2 separate regions of the Homo sapiens genome follow, and region 2 is linked to region 1. The links come from fine-mapping of genetic effects on gene expression. A gene starts in region 1. The other region holds a variant in brackets. All regions are shown on one strand. Distances are between the middles of the regions.

The links. PIP is the estimated chance that this variant, and not a neighbour inherited with it, causes the effect.
Region 2: its variant is the best candidate, but not a certain one, in a credible set for the expression of PAK5 in tibial artery (GTEx, PIP 0.52).

What each region holds. Positions count from the first base shown.
Region 1 is chr20:9,837,605-9,840,520 of GRCh38, reverse strand. PAK5 (p21 (RAC1) activated kinase 5) reads left to right here and starts at 1,445. Exons shown (of 10, transcript NM_177990.4): 1 at 1,445-1,759.
Region 2 is chr20:9,757,801-9,760,716 of GRCh38, reverse strand. All of the region lies in intron 1 of PAK5 (p21 (RAC1) activated kinase 5), which reads left to right. Among named protein-coding and RNA genes, the nearest start is that of PAK5, 80 kb to the left of the region's middle. The variant A/T (reference allele first, on the strand shown) is at 1,386.

The sequences.
Region 1 (2,916 bases):
ATTTATGCATATAGTTGTGGGGGTGACGATGGTGGCAGTGGGTAGGTTGTTAGGGCTGTGTGCAGCTTTGAGAAGGAAGAGATGAGTATGATACACAAGGACATGGGACTACTGAGGGAGAAAAGTAATCATCCATTTATCCTGTGGTTTCTGTTTTGATATGGCCAGTACAATATTAAAGGTACTAAGTGAATGGAAAACAAGCAAGGGGAAATGATAACTACTATACTATTAGCTAGAAAACTGTCTAAGGTCATTGAGTATAATAAGGAACGGAGAGATACAAATCCTTATTTTGTAACCTGCTATCTAGTTATGGGATCAGATTCCATATCCACTACTAGCTCATAAGGGTACTCTTGTGGCAGCTGAAGACAGACAAGAGCGTGGCTTCTTCATTTCCAAGGGTGAAAACTCAGGACTACTTCGTGAATGTCTTTCATTCACTAGAGTCTTGATAATGCTGGAGACTTCAAGAGTCTGGGAGGGCAGTAGGCAACTGGGAAGTTTAAGTTGAACCACAAATATCGTTGCAAACTTCAGCCCAAACATCACTGAACACAAAGGCCTGACATCTCTTGGTACAAAAATGCGCTCTATGTTTGTCATAATCTGTCGGCTTTCTTAACTAGGCAAGCCCAAGCTTGCTATTAGATGTACAATAAACACTTTGATGCCCAGTCTGAGTTTTTGTCCCAGCTCAGGAAAGGCAAGGGGACAGCCAAGGCAGACTGGTTCAGACTTGACCGGGGCAGCTCATCCAGCAACTGGCTTACTAGCCAGCTAGCAAAGTGAGCATGAAAAGGTCCAGGAATCCTTCTTCCCCTGGGCCTTAAATTCGAAATCAGACAGCAGCCAAGGAGAAGCTGGGTGGTCACAGCCTAGCCCCACAAACACTCCTTCCAGGTAAGGCTCAGCAACCCCAGGCTGGAGGAGTCTCTGTGGACACCAGAGACCATTGCTAGGCTGGCGGATTGAAGGATGGCCACTGAGAGGTCACAGATAAGGGGTTCTCTAGATGTTTGCTACTCGGAGTGGTGGGAGGGCCAGCAGCAGCAGCATCACCTGCGAGGTTGTTAGGCTTGCAGAATCTCAGGACCCAGCCAATTGAATCTGAATCTGCATTTTAATTCACAGGCACATGAAAGTTTGAGAATCACCGGTCCAGGTGGTGGCAAAGAGGCCAGCCCACTGTTCTGCTTCTCAGCCCCTCCTCCTCCCCACCTCTGCTAGCCTCTTAAGCAAAACTCAATCCTGCAATGGTCCTGAACAACATTTCTGCAAATCCCGAGTGTTGGGGGAGAGGGCGTGCAGGAGCTGCCCCCGCCGGGGACGACTGGGAGTAAACGTGATTGGATTGGTCGCCTGCTCCAGCTCCCGGCTCCTGGCTCCTGCACCCTGAGTGTAGACACGCCCCCCGACCCTCCCCCTCACCTCCACCCCCGGCCGCCGCTACAGCCTGCCTCCCGCCGGCTGCCACGAAAACCCGGAGCAGCTGCGTACGCTCATGGACAGTCCTCCGAGGGGCGAAGCCGGGCAGCTGGGCATGCTCAGTAGCTGGGGGAGGTTTGGGTGGAGAGTAGAAAGCTGTGGCTCTGCCTCTCACCCCCTCCCGCTGGCCCCCGCCCCCCTTGCCCCTACCCAGCCAGTAGTAGTTCCCCAGCGTGCGCCCGGGGAGACCGGGAACATGGCGCTGGGAGCGCTGTAGCAGCTGAGAAGGGGCTGAGGCACCGCCGCTTCGCTGACAGCCGGCCACCAGGTAGGCAGGCGCGCCTGTCGGGACTGCCTGGGTGGGTATCGGCGAGAGGAGAGGCGCCTGCGGGGATGCGCGCCGCTGGTAACCGGAGCATCTCTCTTTGCCGGGAGAGGATGCGAAGAGGACCACTGTGACAGCGCGATCCTGCATCTCCTAGGAGATGCAAAGGCTAGGGACCTGCTGCCTGGAGGGTAGGGATAGGGGACCGCCCACCCTCAACCCATGCGCTACTATCCAGCCTGGGCTCTCTACCAACCAAATAAAGGATGGTTCCATTTTGCTGGGCGGGAGGGCGTGGAGGAGAACCCCGGATTCCAGCCCTGAGAGCGTGCTGGTACCCCGAACTGCTCGCAAGCCCAGCACCAGTTCTTTGTGTGTATACAGCAGCGCACGCCCTGGGGGTGCCACGGCGCTGCTTTTCCCGAGAAGTGTTGGACATATTGCCAGAGCAGGATTCCCGCATGGTTTTTGTCTTTTGGCAGGTGTGGACTGGAGGATGCAATAGCTGAGCCTTTATGAGGCTGTGTTTTCCTTTGTTATTTGTGTGTGTGTGTGTGTGCGCGCGTGTGTGTGTGCGCGCGCGCCTGGTGGGTTGTAATGGAGAGACAGAGAGAGAACTTCTGCTTGTGGGCACCCTTGTGAGCAGGGCGTGGAAGAGGATCTTGGTTCCAAACTCTTGTCAAAATTGTGTGCCATGTCAGCCTCCTAGAGGGTAAACTTGAGAAGTCCAGGGATCATCACTGCTCAGTTTGGAGGATAAGCGCGATCGCCCTTCTTGAAACCATGTGTGTGTATATGGAGCTTTCAACTCGGGCTGAGTTAATTTGTCAACATTAGATATCAATTAAGGGAACCTGAAACGCTGAGGCTATTTATGGTGGTCTTTTTATGGCCAGAATAATAAACAAAAAGAAAAGTTGGCACAAAGCCAGAGGAAAGTGTCATTGTTAATAGTTGATGACAGCTTGAAAGACTGAACACACTTTTAGGAAAATCAGGAAACCTGGCATTCTACGGAGTTCTACCAAGACATAGCCACAGGGTCTTAGGTAACTCACAAAAATCTTCTAGTGCAACCGCTTCTCTTCTGGGGCTTGGAGGCTGTAGACACTCTTTCTCTTACCTGATATAGATGGACAAGATGCTTTTTAGAAGTCCCT
Region 2 (2,916 bases), 80 kb after region 1:
CTGAGTGACAAAGTAATACTCTGTCTAAAAAAAAAAAAAAAAAGAAAAGAAAAGAAAAAAGATAAATGTCAGATGAATTGATATAGATGATGAACTTCAAAAAGAAGCTAAACTCAAATATACATTTTTTTTTTTTTTTCTCAACCATCAAAAACTTGAAATTCTCTGTTGAGAACTTCTGGGATCTTTTCTGACCATTCTGTCAGGAGCAGCCCAGTAGATTTGTAGAATTAATGTTGACACTTCACACCTTTTATGAGTCCCTATCCAAATGGGAGAACGGAAGATTTGTATCAGACAGTTTTGCTAAGAATTGAAAACAAGAGCCATTTTTTGGCTGTTAACCAGAATGAATTGTTGATCAAGTAGATCATTTAGCCCTCAATACTGGAACTCTTGATGAATAGCATGGAGAACTAAATTATAAAGTTTCAAGATTTTTTCACTATTTTGTCATTGTCCTAAAAGTCTGGAATGAGCTTTTTAAGTTTCTGTCTCTGTTTTTGGCTCTAATTTTTGACATCCCCCACAAAACAAAGTAGTACTTCAGTTATTGAAAGCCATTATGATTTTCAGTAAATATGTCTCATGTTGCTATAACACTCTGGTGGTCACAGCTACCCAATAACATCACATGGGAAGGACAGCTACATGGTTCAATTTAATTACAAATATTTACACACTTTCAATATAAGCCCTGGAAAACATTAGCGTAGGGTGACCCCTCCCAGTAGGATAGCAGCTTTTTGCAGCTCAAAGCTGTATTCTTTCCTAAAAGGTTTTATTTGACTAAATGGCTGACAGGCGGATATTGAATAGAGAATGAGATGGTTGGTATATGTTACGACTTGAATGTAACCCTAGACACAGAGTTTAAAATAGTCTGCTGGTGTCTTATAGGGACTTGTTCCCCATGACCCAACATTCCTGAGACCAGGCAACATTCTCTTCCTGCCTCCAGGGAGTCATTTCGTAGCTGGGTTTGGGTAAACGTTGTGGGTTTCAAAAAAGCCCCATGCATGGGACCAGGAGAGCCTCCTTTTTCGACCTTGTACCACAGGCATCACCAACTACTCAAGATGTAACTTTGTTCAGGGCAGGGCTACTCAAAGTGAGGATCCCTTTCCTTCATCTGGGAGCTTGATAGAGATGCAAATTCATGGGCTCCTCACCTACTGACTCTGAATCACTGGGGTGTGGCCAGGAATCTGTGTTTTAACAATCTCTCCCTTAAATTCTGTGAAATATCACAATTTTAGATTTCCCATAGGTGTGAGGCAACAAGCAGACATTAGCTGAATACTTCTCAAAAGATGATCGTGATCATCTGTTCACCTTGCCAAATAGAAGTTTCCCATAATGCAAACAGAGGAACACTTATCTAT[A/T]GGATATGATAAGAAACAGGTTCTGACAAATGTAAATATGCTACAAAGTAATTTTATTAAAACATGGTGTTATCAGATGTTTAGCAGTGAAAAGAGATAGTAAAATTAAAAAGCCCAGCTACATTCTGCATCATCTTATATAACTTGCTACCCTTTCAATTAATACTTTTCCTGGATTTGTTATCTTGTAGGACGTAGTGTTAAGTGAAATCTTCCTTATTTGATTGTGTTCTCATATTGAATGCTTGCTTGCTTTCTCAGTAAGAGTTCCTAGGAGCCAAGCAAATATTACATTAGTGCATAATTCCTCCAGGGACTGTGTTGTGGCTGGAGTCACAAGGGGTTCTGTCCCCTTTGGAGAGCAGACCTGGAACTACACTCAGTGGGCTCTGAAACCTGAGCCCCAGAGCCTGTTTTGTTGGTAAAAACTTTGCTGCCTTTCTTTTCCTTAGACATGGCCTCCAGGCAGAAGACAAAGTAGACAATTTATAAAGAAGGGAGCCTGTGGATGTCACAGAGGCATTTCTTGTCCTTACTGGGGCAAGGACATAAATAGAACACATTTTATTTCTATAAGCTGCTATGTTCATTTTAGTTCCCACACATTTAGTGGTGAACTGATAAATATTTAACAACCTAGACTCCAAGGGGGAAAGCCTTGAATTTTAGCCTTGGCAAGTTTTCAAAATCTAAATACCATGGCCAATTTCAAGCTACCAATGCAATGTCACAAAGTCATGGTAGTGGGGCTGAAACAAGAGGCTGCAATCAGCTATCACTGTTCTATGCGAGCTGGCTTCAGCATACCACTATGCAAAGTACTCCCTTCCAGGTACTCGCTGAGATAGAAGATGGGAATTGAGCTAGCCCATGGTAGGCATGGATAGGAAGGAGACATCACTGTTGTTGCACGGGCTTGGCATGTGGGGAGATCTGTTGGTGTTCAGTACATGAGAAAACATTCATGTGTTCGATGCCACTCCCTTCTATGCTAATGTTTTGGCCACATGTGTTGGGGAGGTAAAATGCTGGATTCTATACTTCTGTTAATAGTATGATGAGTTCACCACAAAGCATAAGGCTAGAAAGGACATCCGTACCTCACATTTTCAGATAAATGACTTAGCAACACTATTATTCCCTGCTAAGGCTGCCTCAAGAGCAAAAGCAGGCATGCACACAATTCTTTGTTGCCCCAGAAAGTATCGCATACATTTGCTATTGTAGGAAAGTATAAAAAAGCTTGCAATCCAAATAAGGCTATGAAGTAGCTCCCAAGGGCAGCATAACTTCTGAAGCAAACTCCTTCTGCAAAGAATCCTGTTATTTATATACCAAGAGCAACAAACATCCATATTTACTTTTGTCTGTGCCCGAATTCAACATTTGATTGTTCTTGTCACTGTGAGGCTTGGCGTCTAAAACACTGTAATGACAGGTTACGTGGTGTGAGATAATAAAGAGTGGATGCATTTTATCCAGGGAACTGATTCTACTACTATCAAAGTATTTTGAAAGAAGAGGAGGAGAA